Homo sapiens: one gene and its partners. The gene in region 4 interacts genetically with the main gene of each other region. Each region holds a gene or a part of one and is shown on either strand. Other genes may lie near its edges.

The links.
Region 1: changes in THOC1 (region 4) and MCM2 together harm fitness less than expected from each alone (positive genetic interaction), as found in Homo sapiens cells (one large-scale study listed by BioGRID).
Region 2: changes in THOC1 (region 4) and GEMIN5 together harm fitness less than expected from each alone (positive genetic interaction), as found in Homo sapiens cells (one large-scale study listed by BioGRID).
Region 3: changes in THOC1 (region 4) and ACTL6A together harm fitness less than expected from each alone (positive genetic interaction), as found in Homo sapiens cells (one large-scale study listed by BioGRID).
Region 5: changes in THOC1 (region 4) and CHD4 together harm fitness less than expected from each alone (positive genetic interaction), as found in Homo sapiens cells (one large-scale study listed by BioGRID).

The regions. Positions count from the first base shown.
Region 1 is NC_000003.12:127,604,782-127,608,877, forward strand, and holds part of MCM2 (DNA replication licensing factor MCM2), read left to right. Parts: coding exon 1-2; intron 3-95; exon of another isoform or gene 96-114; coding exon 115-375; intron 376-1,336; coding exon 1,337-1,556; intron 1,557-1,828; coding exon 1,829-2,036; intron 2,037-3,600; coding exon 3,601-3,735; intron 3,736-4,050; coding exon 4,051-4,096. UniProt on the Homo sapiens protein: Acts as a component of the MCM2-7 complex (MCM complex) which is the replicative helicase essential for 'once per cell cycle' DNA replication initiation and elongation in eukaryotic cells.
Region 2 is NC_000005.10:154,886,528-154,890,274, forward strand, and holds the end of GEMIN5 (gem-associated protein 5), read right to left. Parts: intron 2,891-3,747; coding exon 2,794-2,890; intron 1,851-2,793; coding exon 1,683-1,850; 3' UTR 884-1,682; downstream 1-883. UniProt on the Homo sapiens protein: The SMN complex catalyzes the assembly of small nuclear ribonucleoproteins (snRNPs), the building blocks of the spliceosome, and thereby plays an important role in the splicing of cellular pre-mRNAs.
Region 3 is NC_000003.12:179,565,738-179,569,833, forward strand, and holds part of ACTL6A (actin-like protein 6A), read left to right. Parts: intron 1-4,086; coding exon 4,087-4,096.
Region 4 is NC_000018.10:226,411-230,506, reverse strand, and holds part of THOC1 (THO complex subunit 1), read left to right. Parts: intron 1-3,605; coding exon 3,606-3,706; intron 3,707-4,096. UniProt on the Homo sapiens protein: Component of the THO subcomplex of the TREX complex which is thought to couple mRNA transcription, processing and nuclear export, and which specifically associates with spliced mRNA and not with unspliced pre-mRNA.
Region 5 is NC_000012.12:6,572,981-6,576,975, forward strand, and holds part of CHD4 (chromodomain-helicase-DNA-binding protein 4), read right to left. Parts: intron 290-3,995; coding exon 94-289; coding exon of another isoform or gene 91-93; intron 1-90. UniProt on the Homo sapiens protein: ATP-dependent chromatin-remodeling factor that binds and distorts nucleosomal DNA. Acts as a component of the histone deacetylase NuRD complex which participates in the remodeling of chromatin.

The DNA of each region.
Region 1 (4,096 bases), on a different chromosome or scaffold from region 4:
TGGTAGGTCCAGTTGTCTGCCTGCCCGAGGGACTGGGAAGCTGGGAAGGAGTCTGGGAGGGGAGTAGAAGGTGCTGGGGATGACCGCAGTAGCAGGTGTCTCTTGCCTCCCCAGACAGCGATGAGGAGGACGAGGAGCGCCCTGCCCGCAAGCGCCGCCAGGTGGAGCGGGCCACGGAGGACGGCGAGGAGGACGAGGAGATGATCGAGAGCATCGAGAACCTGGAGGATCTCAAAGGCCACTCTGTGCGCGAGTGGGTGAGCATGGCGGGCCCCCGGCTGGAGATCCACCACCGCTTCAAGAACTTCCTGCGCACTCACGTCGACAGCCACGGCCACAACGTCTTCAAGGAGCGCATCAGCGACATGTGCAAAGGTGTGGCTTCCCTACGCCCCCGCCTCAGCCCCTGTAGCGCCTCCCTAAATCCTCCCCAGAAAGTTGTCTGAGCCGAGTGAACACGTGAAGCACAGGGCATATGGCTGAGAGGTCTGTCAGAGAAACCAAAAGTTTTGAGTTTTGCATCAGGGCTCTCCTGCTGGCTATGCAGTGACCACATCTGGGCCACCAAAGCGTTTTTTGACAAGCTTGAAAATGGACAGATTTTATATAAAAATCTGGATTACTACTTTGATCTTTGTAATAGGAATTGACTCTTTTTTTTTTTTTTTTTTTTTTTGAGACGGAGTTTTGTTCTTGTTTCCCAGGCTGGAGTGCAATGGCACGGTCTCGGCTCACTGCAACCTCCGCCTCCTGGGTTCAAGCGTTTCTCATGCCTCAGCCTCCCGAGTAGCTGGAATTACAGGCATGCACCACCATGCCTGACTAATTTTTTTTTTTTAGTAGAGAAGGGGTTTCTCCATGTTGGTCAGACTGGTCTCAAACTCCCGACCTCAGGTGATTTGCCCGCCTTGGCCTCCCAGAGTGTTGAGATAACAGGCGTGAGCCACCGTCCCCAGCCAGGAATTGACTTTTAAAAGGGACATGTAGATCTTGATTCCTGCAATTCCTTCCACTGCTTTTTGTCCTGTGTTTGTCAGTTTCTTCCTGGCTCTTGTAAGGCGTTTCATGTTTGTAGCTGTGTAGGCACTCTGCTCATATTTAATTTAACCCCCCAGCAACTTTGTACACTGTGTGACATGCCCATTTTACGGAGTAGGAAGTTGAAGCTCAGGCTATGTCACAGCTGAAGTGTGGTAGACCTAGAAGTGAAAGCTGGGCTTTCTAGGTCAAAATCAATGGTCGGGGTGGGTAGGCCTTGCTTCTCACACAGGCATTGTTGCAGCCCAGCCCAGGCCTCATGCTTAGTTAACTCTCTTCCCACTGTGCCCCCTTCTAGAGAACCGTGAGAGCCTGGTGGTGAACTATGAGGACTTGGCAGCCAGGGAGCACGTGCTGGCCTACTTCCTGCCTGAGGCACCGGCGGAGCTGCTGCAGATCTTTGATGAGGCTGCCCTGGAGGTGGTACTGGCCATGTACCCCAAGTACGACCGCATCACCAACCACATCCATGTCCGCATCTCCCACCTGCCTCTGGTGGAGGAGCTGCGCTCGCTGAGGTGAGCTGAGGGCAGGTGAGGATGGCAGGTCCGAGCTCAGTGCTGGGTGACTCGGTCGTGATTCCTGAAGAGCGATTGTGGTGTGGGCGGGGAGGGTGCAGCCAGCAGCATCCTCATCGCAGGTGAGTTGTGGTTGCACAGGAGTGTGATGGGAGGGATCTTCCCGGGCTGGGGGCTGGGCCCAATTTCCAGGACAGTGTGTTGGGACACTCTCGTCTGCAGCCTGGCCTCACCCTGGCTCACGGCTTCTGATGCACCCTCTGCCTCCGCAGGCAGCTGCATCTGAACCAGCTGATCCGCACCAGTGGGGTGGTGACCAGCTGCACTGGCGTCCTGCCCCAGCTCAGCATGGTCAAGTACAACTGCAACAAGTGCAATTTCGTCCTGGGTCCTTTCTGCCAGTCCCAGAACCAGGAGGTGAAACCAGGCTCCTGTCCTGAGTGCCAGTCGGCCGGCCCCTTTGAGGTCAACATGGAGGAGGTGAGAGAGGACACAAGGTCTGCTGCCAGCTGTCCTTAGGGGTGCCCAGTATGCAGGACCTGACTGGCCTCTCAGGCTGTGGAAGACCAGTGTGGGCAGCCGCAAGAAGCAAGATAGAATTGTGTGTTGGCCACACCCTGGGGTGGACCCAGTCTGTCTGGCCAGTGGACTTAGCTTGGCCCACACGACGTTTTTAGGAATTCAAGTCAATATTTAAGTCAGGCGATTTGTTTAAACCATACAAGTTTATGGCTCCTCTTGAAACATGAGAAGATCTGGCAAACAGGGCCCACTTCTTGCCAGGTCACTCCTTCAGGATGTGTGCTTACCAGTCTCCATGGTGCCATCACTCACGTGGGGTGGCTGCAGTCCCATCGGGACTTCCCCTCAGCTTGTTTCTGGGACCTGTCTGGCTCACGTGGGGCCCCTGGACCATACCAACCTCCTGCACCATATTCAGGAGACGCTGCCAAAGCCTCTGATGTTAAGGTCTTAGGCACATGTAATGTGCCTTTGTACTTGAGCGTCCCTGTAAATGGGCTCATCGCCATCGCTGTGGTGGCGCCCAGGCCCCTTGACTGCCTTGCTGCTGTGGCTGTTGGCTGTCCTCTTCTCACCGCTCTGCAGTGCAGTTCTGCGAACTGTCCCAGCTGGAGCCACCTTGCCAGAAAATGCCTCAGAGGTTCCACCTGTGGCCACCTACAGCCAAAAGCTGACCCGTCTCGTCTCGGGTGGGGCAGCTGCAGGCCAGATGCCAGCTGAGCCACGTCTTTGCTCACTCTTCCCATGCCCTGTCTGTCTCCCTCAGGCCTTGCTTCTAGGGACCTGAGATAGTACCTGGTAGAGGGTTAACAGTTACAGCTATCATTCATGGAGTAACTTACCAGTGCCAGGTGGTGGGTGGTTTATTACCTGGTCCTTTTTCACAGCTCATGAGGCAGGAACTGTTACTGGCCCCACTTTGCCGAGTGTTTAGAGAACTGGCTGAGGTCACCCAACCAGAATGTGTGTTAGAGGTCCACAGCTCAGGCATCTTGATCTAGAGCATGTGCTTTTAACTGCAGTGCCATGTTGTGAGATAATGGGTACGAAATGACATGGCACAGTGCTGGCCTGTGATACTTGACAGTGACAGCCAAAACTTCCTGTAACTTAACATTTATCAGATGCTGGATTAGGTTGATGTATGTATGACTTGCTTTAATTCTTATTGTGAGGTTGCAGAGAAGGCACAGAGAGAGGAAGTCACTTGCCCAAGATCACACAGCTTAGACACAGAACCCAGGCAGCCTGGTTCCAGCATCGGTACTCAAGACAGCTTAGCTGTAAAGCATAGAGCAGGTGCTGAGTCTGGCCGTCAGAAGGCATCCCAGAGGGATGGTGTGGCAGGAGTGGGGACTGTCAACTGATGTGCTGAGTCGCCATGAACTCATTCCTTGCTGTCTTTGGCTCTCCATTTGCCACTCAGGAGTCGGAATCCTGCCTGTTCTCCCTCCTGTTCGGGGGTCAAGGTTAGGTGACATAGTAAGTCAGTGATTTGAGGCCTTCTGTGTGTCCCTCGCAGACCATCTATCAGAACTACCAGCGTATCCGAATCCAGGAGAGTCCAGGCAAAGTGGCGGCTGGCCGGCTGCCCCGCTCCAAGGACGCCATTCTCCTCGCAGATCTGGTGGACAGCTGCAAGCCAGGAGACGAGATAGTAAGTGGCCGGGGCAGGCTGGGAGGGAGCCAAGTTGCAGAGGGAACTGGCAGAAGCAGTTGTGGCTGGGCCGGTGGCGGTGTCTATGGTCGCAGGGGCACTCGGGCTAGGATCTGTTTTTGCATGGCTGAGGCAAAGAACTTTCTTCTGGTGGATGGGTTGTTGGAATGGTGGGTTTAGGAGGGGTTTTACTGAGTTACTTATCTTGGTGTCTGTAGTGTGGAGCACTTGCAATAGGAGAAACTGGAGGAAGGCAGCACGGAGGTGGGCACCCCTGGGTTAGGCTCTGACTTCTTGGCCCCTCCCTTTCCCCAGGAGCTGACTGGCATCTATCACAACAACTATGATGGCTCCCTCAACA
Region 2 (3,747 bases), on a different chromosome or scaffold from region 4:
GCCTCCATATATACTGCCCAGCTGGTCTCAAACTCCTGTCCTCAAGTGATTCACTTGCCTTGGTTTCCCAAAGTGTTGGGATTACAAGCATGAGCTACCATGCCTGGACTCAAATAGATAATCTTGTTCTTACCAAAGCAGTAACTGAGGAGTGTGCAGGACTCCTCCACCCACAGGTGATGCTTCTGACAGATCACAAAGGAATTTAGAATTCTAGTTTAACAATATCACTCTTTACTCAAGTGGAAGGGAGTATATATTTTTTCCACCTCTGTAAGTAAAGTTCATTTTAGCAGTTGGTAGAACTGGTGTCCTACCAACTAGGCTAGGTTTTCTACCTAGCCATGCCTATTTATGTCTTTGCAATCAAGAAAGATTCTCCATCCCTGGTAACAAAGCATCGTCTTCCTAAAGTTCACTTCACTGTATGAAGAACTGTGAGGATCTAAATTCTACAGTATTTCCCTTTGTGAGTTTATTAAACTCTAATGCTAGGCACATACACGTCTTTGAAAACTGCCTCAAACTTTCTCCTTCCTGGGACTTCCTGTAAATGAATTTCATTCTCACTGTCCCAACAGCTCCAATCCTAGGAATTAATTGAAAAATAAACTACAAACGTGAGCAGAAAAGCCTTCACAATGAATCCTAGAGAAAACAGTTCAATTATCTGAAAGGAGTGTTCCTTCCTACACCCATGCCAGACTCTGATTTTCCCATGCTAGCAACTGTGACATTACAGAAACATCTGTTCCTGACACTGTTCAACTGTTTAAATAACCAAGGAGGAGAAAAAAAAGATTTATAATTAAATAGTATTTAGGGTCCCAATAGTCAGAGTCCAATAATCCAAAGGTCATCTATGCAAAATTAGGAATATGCATTTTTCTCCAAAGAGTATCTTTGGCTTTAATCTGATTCTCAAAAGGATCCTATGATCCAAGAAAGTTTAAGAACCATTGAAACAGTAATTTATTCCTGAGCTATTTGACTGCCATCAATCCATTTGTTATAAAACTGAAGGGAAAACACACATTTGAATCACTTCTTCTAAAGCTTTAGTAAGTGATCTGTTCAAATAAGCAATTACATGAAAGAATAAAACCAAATTTCCAACCTAAAATTCTGACAGGAGAGTCAACATGATGGTTAAGGCCTATTTCATATTCAAACTTCAGTCTATGAAAGAGTAGAGAGAGAAGGGTCTCCTCTTTCAAATTAAATATTATAAAAACAATTAAAAAAAGGTATCAATAGTCCTAAAATGCAGCAACTCCATCTCAAACAAGCATGACACACTTCTGATCAGATGAAGTATTTACAAAGGTAGCTTGTGTTTTAAGCATGTAACACTTTGGGTGACGACAGAAGTTTCTCCTCTTTGGGTGAAACCTGCCTAAGGCTGTAGAGATGACCAACACTCTGCAGGTGTTAGTTCTGAATAACTACTGTGGGCTTTTCATGATCTTCCCTCCAGTAGGAGACCACAATTGAGTCTAAAGTCAGATCCACCGTTGTCTATGGGTAGGCAGGGTTGATTCAAACTTAATCCTTGTTTGTATTCTTTTGGATTACTGCAAAAACATCTAGGGACCAGAGTGAATGTCTGGTGAGGCATAACTGCAGAGGTGAAAGATGTCAAACATTTTCAATTTGGCAGTTTCTTCAAGGTGTGTGAAAATTCACATACAGAAGGTCTGGCAGTGTCTTCTGTAAGTTTTCGTGTTGCCGTATTTCTGAAGGAGCTCTTGGGCCTGCTGCTGCATTTCCTGGGCCAGACAGCCAGGAAAGTGGGACCTGATGAGAAGCAGGACGAGGCAGCACTCCAGCACATCTGGGAAGGGCCAGGCCTGAAAGACGATGACATGAGGATGAATAAGGAAGCATTTGCAGAAGAGCCACAAACACCTGCACAGAAGGCACCAGTCACTCAGGTTCATCTATAGACACTTCTTGGACACAGCTGAGCCAGCTGTCTCCTAAGGCAATGTCCTGTCTTTCTCTTCAACAGTTACTCCAAGGAGAAATGACACTCAAAACTAGGATGGCTACTGCGATGTCCTTCTCAATGGCACAATCTCTTTCTACAGCCCTATGCAAATCCACCCTTAAAAATGGTGCTTCTATTAATATTTGGGCCCACAGCCAAAAAGACCTGTCCATCTGTAAGCTATCTAATACATGGCACCAATTTAAATTTTACTTCTTACCTATTAAATCTATTTGGTTTCTCTGAAGATTGAGGTATAAAATTACTTGTGTGATCGATAATTCTAGTCTCACAAAACATTCTAGCTAACCAAAGTAATTGGATTCTAAATTCTTTTTTTTTGTTTTGTTTTTTTTTTGAGACAGAGTCTCGCTCTGTTGCCCAGGCTGGAGTGCAGTGGCGTGATCTTGGCTCACTGCAAGCTCCGCCTCCTGAGTTCACGCCATTCTCCTGCCTCCATGCTATTCTCCTGCCTCAGCCTCCCGAGTAACTGGGACTACAGGCACCTGCCCCCACGCCCGGCTAATATTTTGTATTTTTAGTAGAGACGGGGTTTCACCATGTTAGCCAGGATGGTCTTGATCTCCTGACCTCATGATCCGCCAGCCTCAGCCTCCCAAAGCGCTGGGATTACAGGCGTGAGCCACCACGCCCAGCCTGGATTCTAAATTCTTAAGCACATATGAATGGGTAGAGATTTTAGAAACTGAACAGAGAGGTAGCTGACCTTTATAAGAATGTGGTATAGTCAAGTGATAACACAAAAAGTGATGCTTTACCAAATGAACTGCTTTAACTCTTACCTTAATGCTCTCAGGAAATTTCGCCATTCTCTGATTTGCCTCGGTAAGCCTTTTGGTTAACTCAGGCAGAGAAAGTGGCTCATTTTTTTCTTCTTTACTAGTGAAAAAAATAAAAGGTGTAAATTGTATGTCTTGCCCTGGGTAACATTTTTCTCCCATTGTTATTTTACTGTGGTAAAATGTATATAACATAAAGCTTACCATCTTAGCCATTTAAAAATACATAGTTCAGTGATTTTAAATAAATTCATAATGTGGTGAAAAACATCCCCACCACCCATTTCCAAAAACTCTTGTCATTTTGTAAAACTGAAATCTTATACCCATTAAACATTAACTTCTCATTCTGCTTCCCTTAGCCCCTGTCAACATTATTCTACTTTCTGTCTCTATAAATTTAACTATTTTGAGTAGTTCATATAAGTGGAGTCATATAGTATATGTCTTTTTGTGACTGGCTTATTTCACTCAGCATGATGTCCTCCCTTCGTAAGGCTGAATGACATTCCATTGTATGGATATGGCACATTTTGCTTATCCATTCATCTGTCAGTGGATACTTAGGTTGCTCCCGTGTTTTGGGTATTATGAATAATGCTGCCATGAACACAGGTGTGCACATATTTCAGACCCTGCTTTCAATTCTTTTGGGTGTATACCCAGATGTGGAAGTGCTGGATCCTATGGTCATTCTATTTTACATTTCTGGAGGAAGTGCTGCTGTACTGTTTTCCACAGTGGCTGCATCATTTTACATTCCCACCAATAGGCACAAGGGTTCCAATGTCTCTGCATCCTCCTCAACACTTGTTCTGTTTCTCTGATAGTAGCCTAATGGCTATGAAGTGCTGCTTCACTGTAGTTTTGATTTGCATTTCCCCAATGATGAGATGTTGAGCATCATTTCCTGTGCTTACTGGCTTTTTAGAGAAATGTCTATTCAAGTCCTTTGCC
Region 3 (4,096 bases), on a different chromosome or scaffold from region 4:
ACCTTGAATTTCAACTGGCTAGAGTGATTTAAATTTTATCAAATACAGTGATGAGAAACCACGGAATGATTCACCCCCTAATTTTTTTTGAAGGATTTATGTACCAAAATAATGACAGTTACAGTATTGAAAGATCATAGTGCAGCAGTTGGAAGGGTGGATTGAAGAGGCAAAGAGGTGGAGGCACAATATCTGTAGGGAATTGTAGTTTCCCGGTTGAGATAAGAGCTCGATTGAAGGCAGTGGCAATGGTATTAAAAAGGAGGGGATTTGAGAAATACTTAGCAGAAATATTTGGCAGAACTTGAAAGATGGAGGTGTTCACAAAAACTCTCAGATTTTTGCCAGTGTGGACTGGTGGTCAGCAATGTGTTAGGCAATGCTGAGATCAGCAGTGCTTCAGATGTGTTGAATTTGAGATACCCATGAGGCATCAGATGCAATTATGTTGATGTACAGTGAAAAGTTCAGGATATGGATGTAGACACTGGTTAGAGCTTGAGAGAGAGAGAGATTTGAAATTGGAATTATCAGTATTTAGGTAGAAGTTGAAGCTATAGGAGTAGAATATATTACCCAGGAAAGGGTAAATTAGGGAAGGAGCTCCTAACATAGGGTTTGTGGCCTTCCCAAAGTTTCCATGGTAGAACTATATTTTATTATAATTGGCTTCTTTTATAAACATTTAAAAACATTCTAAGAAGGGATTCATAATTTCCTAAACTGTATTAGTTTGTAGGGCTGCCATAATAAAGTACCACAGTCTGTGTGGCTTAAACAACAGAAATTAGTTTTCTCACAATTCTAGAGGATAGAGGTAGATCTAAGTGTCAGCAGAGTTGGTTTCTTCTGAGGTCTGTCTCTGTGTGTAGATGGCCATCTCCTCCTCTGTCTTCACATGGCCGTCCCTCTGTACAAGTCCAAGTCTGAATTTTCTCTTTTTGTTGTTGTTGTTGTTGTTGTTGTTTTTGAGACTGAGACTTGCTCTGTCACCCAGGCTGGAGTGCAGTAGCACGATCTCAGCTCGTTGCAGCCTCCGCCTGCCGGGTTCAAGCAATTCTCCTGCCTCGGCCTCCAGAGTAGCTAGGACTACAGGTGCATACGGCCACGCCCGGCTAATTTTTTGTATTTTGGGTAGAGTTGGGGTTTCACCATGTTGGCCAGGATGGTCTTGATCTCCTGACCTCGTAATCTGCCCGCCTCTGCCTCCCAAAGTGTTGGGCTTACAGGTGTGAGCCACCGCGCGCCCTGCCTGAATTTTCTCTTAAAAACATCACTCATACTGGATTAGGACCCAATCTAATGATTTCATTTTAACTTAATTACTTCTTCAAAGATTCTGGTTTCACCGGGCATGGTAGCTCACGTCTATAATCCTAGCACTTTGGGAGGGCAAGGCGAGTGGATCACCTGAGGTGTGGAGTTTGAGACCAGCCTGGCCAACATGGTGAAACCCCATGTCTACTAAAAATATAAAACCTAGCCGGGCTTGGTGGCCAGCAGATGTAATCCCAGCTACTCAGGAGGCTGAGGCAGAAGAATCACTTGAACCCCGGAGGTGGAGGTTGCAATGAGCTGAGATTGTGCCATTGCACCCCAGCCTGGGCGACAGGAGTGAAACTCTGTCTCAAAACATAAAAATAAATAAATAAATAAAGAATAAAGACTCTGGTTTCAAGTACAGTCACATTCTGAGGTACTAGGGGTTAGGATTTTGACATATGAATTTTAGGGCGACACAATTCAGTCCACAACACTGTCATAAGGGTCCATAACACAGAACAGGTTAAGGGCTCCTGGCGCAGGGCAAAAGATAAATCCTTGAGGAACAGAAGTTGAAATTTTTGGTTAACTATACAATTAATTCATTTAATTAGGATATCTCTTTACCCAGCATTCTGGTTAATAAAAGTATTAAATTTTACCAACTCATATTCATTGCTATACTTACGATTTGTACTCAAGTTTAGGTGCTGTGGTGAAAACAAATACAGTGTTCTCCTTTTAAGGACCCCCTAGTTTCTGACAAAATAATTTGGACCAGAGAATTTCACAGGGAAGGGTTAATTATCTTGAGAAATGTAACAAATACGTAAACTTTCTTTTATATTAGAAATTAAAATATGTCTCTGTTTTATTTGAATAAAAATGAGAGGCTGGGCGCGGTGGCTAACACCTATAATCCCAGCACTTTGAGAGGCCAAGGCGGGTGGATCACGAGGTCAGGAGTTTGAGACCAGCCTGGCCAATATGGTGAAACCCCATCTCTACTAAAAATACAAAAATTAGCTGGGCATGGTGGTGCGCGTCTGTAGTCCCAGCTGCTCAGGAGGCTGAGGCAGGAAAATCTGTTGAACCTGGGAGGTAGAGGTTGCAGTGAGCCGAGATCACGCCACTGCACTCCAGCCTGGGCAGCAATACAGCAAGACTCCGTGTCAAAAAAAAAAAAAAAAAAAGAGATCATTCTGCAAAGCTACTGTCTCTTAACTGATACTTGCAAAGTAATGGGTTTGATTTTAAAAATTTTAAGTTTTTGAAATATTTTAAACATATTAAAAATATGTAAGTTTGTATGTGATATTACTGTAATCACCTGTAAGTTTGTATGTAATACAATACTGCATTCACCAGTGAGATTAAATAGATGTCATATTTTGCCATATTAATACCTCAGATATTTTAAGAATAAAAATGTTATTGATACAGATTTCCTCTCTCTCCCTTCTTCAGTTCATGTAACCACTGAACTGAAGTTGGTATGTAACATTCCCAGACCCCATGCATATTTTCTTTTTTTTTTTTGAGACGTGTGTGTGTGTGTATATGTGTATATATGTATGTGTATACATATGGTTTTTTGATAACTAGCTTTTAAAACTAAGCATTCTTTTAGATTTATTGATGCTGACATATGTAGATCTAAAGTGTTCATTTGAACTGCTGTACAGGATTCCATTGTGTGAATATATTATTGCTTATCTATTTCCCTGCTGAGAGACCATTAGATTATTTCTGCCTTTTCCTATGGCAAGCAGTGTGTCAATTATAATAGCAGCTTACACTTAGCATGTGTATTTTCTAAGACTTCATATACATGAAAGCACTTAACATGTTTAATCATTAGAGTATCCTGTGAGATAAGAGCTATTATGTACATTTTACATATTAGGAAACTGAAGCAGAGAGGTTAATAAATTGCTCAGTTCTTGTAGCTGTTGAACATTCTTTTGCATGTCTCCTTGCAACCTGTATGAGAGAGTGTCTCCAGAATAAGTAAGTGTAATTCTATGTATGCACAATTTCAACTTTAATAGATATGACTAAATTGCCCATAGTGGTTGTCCCACTTTGGACAATAAATTATAGAATCACCCTAGTTGATGGTGGAGGGAGGTTGCTGGTATATTTATTAGCCTGGTTCATTCACCTCAGGGTAATCCATGGCTAACTGCATCCCCTCTACTAAAAGTCACAGCTCCTGTCAGGTAGCCCTCCCCATACAACTTTCTCTCCAGATTCTGATAACAGTTATTTCTTCTTGTTTCTTCAGTTTGAAGAATGGCAATGGATCCATTATTATTAGTTATCATTATAGTACTGGGGTACTGTACTGTCCCTTCTGGTTGTCCTGTATTTCACCTATATCTTTGCAAATAATTCCCTTTAATAAGTAAACTGAAATTACCCAGTTTTAGTGTACCATTTCTTAACTGATTGAACCTCTACTTAAATACGGTGTATGCCTTGTTATATTTTAATTAAATGATTCTTTAAGGTGTATTTGAAACTAGGTTCAAGTGAGTAATAATATGAATATAATTGGGCTGAGTGCAGTGGCTCATGCCTGCAGCACTTTGGGATGCTGAGGCAGAGGATTGCTTGAGCCCTGGAGTTTGAGTCCAGCCTGGGCAACATAGTGAGACCTTATGTCTACAAAAAATTTAAGAAATTCATTGTAGTCCCAGCTATTTGGAAGACTGAGGCGGGAGGATTGCTTGAGCCTAGGAGGTTGAGGCTGCAGTGAGCTGTGATTTTCATATGATACTTTTGCAAGCTGTTAATGCTAATTATCTTTAATCTTTTCAGATGAAGTTGG
Region 4 (4,096 bases):
TTTCCACCCCTGATTCAGTGTTTTGTTGACTCCTATTTTCAATCCATTGTTTCTATCAAGGAAAATCTTTCAACATAAAAAAATAAAATGAACAGCTAGTAAGCATCACCTAGCCACTTTGGTTCGTCTCTTTAAGCTAGGGGTTCACATCTCTACTCCAGATGTATTGAACTGTGTACTTCGGTCCTTCAAATAGGCCAGTCTCTTATTTGGCTCCCCTTCTTGCACCCCCATCCCCCAACCCCCACTCTCCACCTTTAGGTTTGTTCCTTGTTGAGAGTTTAGATGCTGCTTTCTCCAGGAAGCCTTCCTAGAGTTGCTTGGGCAAATGGATGTTGGAGCCTCTCATTGAATTAGCCAATGCTGGAGAACAGCTTTTGTGGAGGAAATTGATGTTTTACTTTGTTCATGAAATCTGATCAGGTGTCAGTTGAACATTCAGGTAGAGATGTGTGATAGGTTGTCTAGTGTACAAAGCTGGAGACTAGGAACAAGATCTAGGTTGAGAGTATAGTTGTAGGAGTTACCAGTTTATAAATGGTAATTCAAACTGTAGAGTGTATGAAATGAGCTAAAGGGGAGAGTGTAGATTCAGAAGAGAAGAAAATACTGAAATCCCGAAGAAAACCCATGTTTAAGGGAGAATGAAGGGAGAAGAGGAGAAGATTGAAGAGTAACCTGTGAGATTAGAGAAAAACTAGAAAAGCATGCACTCATGGAAGCCAAGCATATCAAGTAGGATGAGGACAGTAAAGAGTGTTCACAGGATTTAACAACAAATAAGTCATTGGTGATCTTGACAAAACACTTTCTTCCCCCGCCCCAAGACCGATTGTTGCTCTGCTGCCCAGGCTGGAGTGCAGTGGCATGGTCTGGACTCATTGCAACCTCCGCCTCCCAGGTTTAAGCTATTCTCCTGCCTCAGCCTCCAGAGTAGCTGGAATTACAGGGCATGCACCACCACGCCCCGCTAATTTTTTTTTTTTTTAAATAGAGACGGGGTTTCACCATGTTGGCCAGGCTGGTCTCGAACTCCTGATCTTGTGATCCGCCCGCCTCAGCCTCCCAAAGTGCTGGGATTACAGGCGTGAACCACCACACCCAGCCGACAAAAACACTTTCAATGGATTAGTGGATGAGGCGGTCAGATGATAGCAGGTTGAGGAGCTGATTGGCAACAGTGCCTATAGTCAATTATTTTAAGAAGCTTTGCTGTTAAAGGGTTAGGTGAGAATGTGGGAGATTTTTGAGGGAGCTTATTTAATGCTTATGGAAAGGAGCTTGGAAAGAATAGGTTGTAGATACAGAAACCAGGGCAGTTAGTTGATGGAACTCAATTGTTAGGGATATTGGGATTCCAGATGGAAGGTAATCCAGATGGAATACCTTTAGCCGTGAAGGAGTTGTGACAGAAGGAAATGAAGTAAACAAAGGTGTAGGTGCAGCTGATTTGTCATTTTGGGGGCCAAGAAATGAAATGCTTTCCAATTTAATTTTTCTTCTCATTGAAGGCAAAAGTAGTTATCTACTGAAAGTGAGAAGGGGTGGTAAAGTAGTATTTTTGCTAAGTGGAAAGGGTTGAAAATCATTACTGTGAAGAGTAGGAGAGAGAATGGCCTTGAAGAATAAAGAAAGATTGCTGATTAAAAACAGATGTTTAAGGTGGTGACAACATACCAGTGGTGCCTTCTGCATAGCTGTGTAATTTGGGGTATTCACTCAGGCACCTCACTTTCAGCTGAGATTGGAATCCTGAGGGTTGGTATAGAGAAGGTGACTAACAGTTGGTTTATTCAAGGTTGCTGTTTGCTCACTAGACATGACAGAAGAAATATGGGACAAGTGTGTTGAAGTTGGCAAGAAAATGGCCGAAGAGATTAACCATGAAGTCTAGACCAGGAGTTGGCAGACTATAGCCTATAGGCCAAATCTGGCCCACCACCTGTGTTGGTTGTTTTTGGTGATTTTGGTTTTTTTTTCCCCCTTACATTTTAGATGTTTAAATACCTACATAATATCCATAATATGTCTCTTAGCCCACATAACCTATTAATAAAAATACTTACTATTTGACACTTCAGGAAAAAGTTTGCTGACCCCTTATCTAGACTAAAATAGGATTATAATAAAATGGGATGGGACTAACAGGCAGAGAATAGACGGGTCAAGGGCCTTAAAGTCTCGGTAAGATCCAAATATTAGGTATATTGGAAGCAACTGAGCGAGAGACCTGGGAAGGATAGAGGTTGTGGTGAGATAGGATTGTGAGTTGAAGACTTCAGATCTGGGGCAGCTGTGAGTGACCCCAGGTCTAGCTGTGGCCACAGTAGTGGGTAGCTGGAGCAGAGATGGGCCTGTCCGTGGAGTTAAGGGCAAGGAACTAACAGCCTGAGTGGAGACAGTCAAGTTGCCCAGGGGCTGGAGGAAGGGAAGGCTGATGGCCGGCCATTCACATTTCCAATTTGGGATAGGAGAGTTAATATAAATAACAATCAAATATATTCAATCCTTAAACGTGAGGGAAACCTGACTGGAAGGCTGATCATTAATTTTTTTTTTTAAGACCTGGAGCCACAGTGTGGAAGGGGTTGCTAGTGAATAGGGAGGCTTGTGCGTGTTAGGTAGCATTAGTAAATGGTACCAACCACGTAAAGCAGAGCCACCAGCACTTGGGACATTGAACCAAAACCAATCTTCGACGCTTCCAGCTGCCTTACTGGCGATTCATTTAGAAGAACGTGGCTTTCCTTTGTTACTGTAGTTTTTGAAGGCAGAACTAGCATGAGTTTGTGGATACAGACTTCAGCCTTCCTTCAGTGTTCCATGCACATAATCAGAATGACCTTCCTTCATCGCCGCAGGTTATTCTTACAGCTGGATGGCAGGGTCGTTGAAGAACTTCCTCATGAGTGACCTTCAAGTCCTTTCTAATCCAGATTCTGTGATAATACAAGTATGATGCAATTTTCACTAAAAGCTAAAAAAAAAAGCCCATCTAATCAGAGATGATCTTCACCTCTAATTTCTTGTTTATTGTCAAGTAATACCTCTGTTGCAGGCACTTTATAGGGCTACAAAAATGAGTGGTCCCCGTTGATATTGTGCTGTTATCCGTATCTTCTTTAGCCATTATTTCTTCATATGTGAGAAAGTAGTAGCCTCAGTTTTACTTTAAAAAAAAATTTTTTTTTTAAATTTAGAGTCTTGCTATGTTGCTCAGACTGATCTCGAACTCCTGAGCTCAAGTGATCCTCCTTCTCAGCTTCCTGAGTAGCTGGGACTATAATAGGCTTTGTGCCACCATGCCCAGCTTACTTTTTTCTATTTCTGCTTTATTTTATCCTCATGTCTGGACCATAGATAGATCATTGTTATCCACCAGCAAGAATGTGTCATGGCATAAAACAGTCAAGAAATCTAAGTGAAACCTTGACTGGGCTGTCTTTGGGCTTGTGCGGTAATGCCTCACATGCAGTGAACTCTCAACAAATGGCTTTTAAATTGAATTGGAATCTTCCATTTCTATATTAGCACATTTTGTACCTTTAGGAAAAACTTGATTTTAATGTGTTGTTTTCGTATGTGTTTGCTTGTTTCTTGAGTAGCTGATGGATTTACAACTGAGTGACAGTAACTTTCGTCGACACATCCTGTTGCAGTATCTCATTTTATTCCAATATCTCAAGGGGCAGGTCAAATTCAAAAGGTAAGATAATATGGGTAGTAAACAATTTGTAAACAGTAGCCAAGAAAAAAAAGGACTTGCTTACGATTTTTCTTATGTATGTGTCCATTTCATGTTAAGGCTGTATCCCTAAAACACATGTATTGCAGCTGATACATTGAAGGCTTTTCGATATTAGGATATTTAAGGAAAAGATGTTAAATATATCTGTCAGTGTGAGTTTTTCCTGCCCAACTCCAGGGCTTGCCAGGAGTTGTCGTCTTTATTAGCAGGTGGAGGTCTCTGCTCCAAAATTCCGTCATTCCCTTCTCACCTCCCTCAGACCTCCTCCAAAGCTGATTTGCAGACTAAGCCAGTAATACATATCTCACAAGGTGTGGAGCTCTGCAGGACATTCAAGCTAAAAGATGC
Region 5 (3,995 bases), on a different chromosome or scaffold from region 4:
AGCTCTGAAAGTTTGAAAACAAATATATGTACATTAGGATGCAGTCAGATCAGGGAGGCCGAATCGGCAGGAGGCAGGGGAGCCACTGGCTACCTTTGTGCAGGACTGCATTGGCTGGCTTGTTTCCTGCCATTGACTCCTTGGACAGGTGCTGATGACTTTCCGCCAAACACTCCACCTCAGCAAAGCGGGTGTTGAGGGCCATGGAAGGGTGAGAAGGGTCTTCTGACATGTTCAAGTAAGCAGCCCGGCGCAGCTGTTCCTCAATCACCAGAGCTTGTTCTAAGAGCTGGACAAGGGATAAGAGGAAACGGGAGTTCGACTGATAACTCACTTTACTCACTTCTGACTGGCCTCTCAGCTCACCTCTCATTGTTTCAGATGGTAATAAGAACCTATGAAGAACTTCATGGACAGCTCATTCCCACACCCAAGTAGTTTAACTTTGCCTTGTAACTTTTTTCTTTCCCTTTTTCAATGTCCTCATTTTTAAAACTCTTTACCCTTTAGGTTCTCTTATACAAAAGCGATAAAAACTCAATTTAGAAAATAGAATATCAAAAATTTTTAACAACAGATAATCCCACCTTCTAGAAATACATCCTGATATTTTTCTTTTTAGGTTTTTTTGTGCATAGTTTTTTACATAACTGAGATCATACTATATACATACCCATATTATGTTTTCATTTAGTTACACAGTTAAGCATCTTCCTTTTTATCATCTACTCTTTATCAACTACTCTTCAAAAACATGTTTTGGCTGGGCACGGTGGCTCACACCTGTAATCCCAGCACTTTGGGAGGCTGAGGCGGGCAGATTACTTGAGGTCAGGAGTTCAAGACCAGCCTGGCCAACATGACAAAACCCCGTCTCTACTAAAAACACAAAAATTAGCCAGGTATGGTAGTGCGCACCTGTAACTGCAGCTACTCAAGAGGTTGAGGCAGAAGAATGCTTGAACCCGGGAGGCAAAGGTTGCAGTGAGCCAGGATCGCGCCACTACACTCCAGCCTGAGTGACAGAGGGAAACTGTCTCAAAAAAAAAGGGGTTATTTTGCTATTTAAAAATATTTTTGTTTTTTATTTCCTCTTATCGCCATCTCACTCCCATTCCTCTGAAAAGCAACTTTTCTAATGTAGTAATACTGTGGCTTTTTGTGTAGGTTTTTAAAAACTGTTTCTGTTTCCTATGTATGTTTCTAAGTTACAGAATGATGTTTTCTGTATCTATAAAATGCTTTTTCTTCTCCCACTACATACCTTTTAAAAGGTACTCTTATGTTGTATGCACATGAATTTTGTTGCTTCTGTTGTTTAATGCCCCATGATATGAATACATGTTTCACCTATGCATTCTCCTAATGCTGAACATTTATGTTGCCTCTAGGCCCCCACCACCAAAAATCATACTGCAAAAACACTCATGCACATGTCATCTGATGGAGCTGTATTAAAGATTCTTTGAAATATATCCCAAGAGGCAGAATGTTGGTTCTTAATTTATGAAAAGATTTTAATTACTTAAAAAATATATTCATAAAACATATGACTCAACATAAGAGAAGATTTCTCATACCCTTCTCCTCTCCTAGTGTCAGCCAGCAGTTCTATGCAGATGATTTGATGCTTCTCAAACATGTACCTTCAGCACTGGTTCTGATCCCACTAGTGTATGGTGATGGGGGTCGGTAGTGGGAGGGGTGCTGATTTGTGAGAAATACCAAAAGACTTGTCTAAAATTCGATATCATTCTTTTCTACAAACTGCTCCCTCTCTTCTTAAATGACAATTTAACTTTCTCAGTGACTCAGGCTCAAAATGTTATTTTCAGTCTCACTCATTCTGTACCTCAAATCCAGTAAGTCAGGAGTTGGCAAGCTACAGCCTGTGGGCCAGATCTGCCCCACCACCTGTTTTTATATGGCTCAAGAGCTAAGAATGGGTTTTACATTTTAAAATGGTTGGCAAAAAGTCAAAACAAGACTATTTCATGCCACTTCATGAGAATTATACAAAATTCAAATTGTAATATCCATAGATGAAACGCTGAAACACATCCTAACTTATTCATTTATGTATCCCCTGTGGCTGCTTTCACACAACAAAGATGGAGTTGAGTATATGCAACAGAGACTACATGTCCCACAAAGGGACTATCTGGCCCTTTAATAGAAAAGGTGTGGTTGGGTGCAGTGGCTCACACTTGTAATCCCAGCACTTTGGGAGGACAAGGCGGGCAGATCACCTGAGGTCCAGAATTTGAGACCAGCCTGGCCAATATGGCAAAACCCCATCTCTACTAAAAATACAAAAATTAGTCAGGCATGGTGGTACATGCCTGTAATCCCACCTACTTAGGAGGCTGAGGCAGGAGAATCGGTTGAAGCCAGGAGGCAGAGGGTGCAGTGAGCCAGGAAATGTCGCCACTGCACTCCAGCCTGGGCAACTGAGTAAGACTTTGTCTCAAAAAAAAAAAAAAAAAAAGGGTTTTATTAACCGTTTTTGGTTTGGGGGGAGAAAAAAAGGTTTGCTGACCCCTACAGTAAGTCACTAAGTCCAATAAATTCTTTGGTGTTGTTTCCTTTATCTTTACCCTTTTCATTTTCCACAACCAGCATCACAGCCCAGACCCTTAACACCTCATGATTATATGACAGTTTTATAATCTTATGAATGCTGTTTCCATTTCCCTTGGTCCTATCAAAACTCTGCTCACAAACTTTCAGTGGCTGCCCATTAACGATAGCGTAAAGTCCAAACTCTCTTATCTGGTGCCAAGAACCCACCTACTGACCTCTAGCCCGTCCACCTTTCTCGTTCCAACCTACCTCCCACCATCACCCAACACAAATGTTTCCCTACAGCTCAACTGGGCTATCTGCTATTTCCAGACATACTAAGCTTTGCTGGCTCACATCTTTGCCCAACCTAATCCCTTTGTTCAGATACCCTTCTGTTTCTACCAAAAAAATCTCCGTCGCATTCTTCAAAACTTCATTCCAATGCCATCTTCTCCATAAAGCCATTTGTGAGTTCCGTCCCTACTCCAATTCCCTCTCGAGAACTTTTTTTTTTTTTTAAGACAGGGTCTTGGATGGGCACAGTGGCTCACGCCTGTTATCTCAGCACTTTGGGAGTCCGAGGCGGGCAGAACATGAGGTCAAGAGATCGAGACCATCCTGGCCAACATGCTGAAACCCTGTCTCTACTAAAAATACAAAAATTAGCTGGGCGTGGTGGCACACGCCTGTTGTCCCAGCTACTCGGGAGGCTGAGGCAGGAAAATCGCTTGAACCCGGGAGGCAGAGGTTGCAGTGAGCAGAGATCTTGCCACTGCACTCCAGCCTGGCAACACATCAAGACACTGTCTCAGGAAAAAACAAAACAAAACAGGGTCTCACTCCAATGCCTAGGCTGGAGTGCAATGGCACAATCTAGGCTCATTGCAGCCTCCTAAGTAGCTGGAACTACAGGTGCACGCCACCAGAACTGGCTAATTTTTGTATTTTTTGTAGACATGGGGTTTTGCCATGTTGCCCGAGCTAGTCTTGAACTCCTGGACTCAAGCAATCAGCTCTTTTAAATGCTGAGATTAGCCACTGTGTCTGCCTCTCTGAGAACTTTCTTTTCTTGTCTTTTTTGAGGTGAGTCTCGCTCTGTCGCCAGACTGGAGTGCAGTGGTGCGATCTCGGCTCACTGCAACCTCCGCCTCCCGGGTTCAAGCGATTCTGGAGAACTTTCTTATGCCAATCAGCAATCTCTCTCCTGATATGCAGAATGGCATTCATTTGATTACACATGTGCTCCTACTTGAAACTGAAAGCTCCTTGAAAACAGATACCATGCTTTGTCTTTTTATCCCTGGGCACATCATTGCTTAGTACATAATACCTGAAGGCTTATTAGTGTACCATTTCTTCCCCGATTATACTCAGCGTACGAGACAACAGACACGTCTTTTTTTTTTTTTGAGACAGAGTCTCACTCTGTT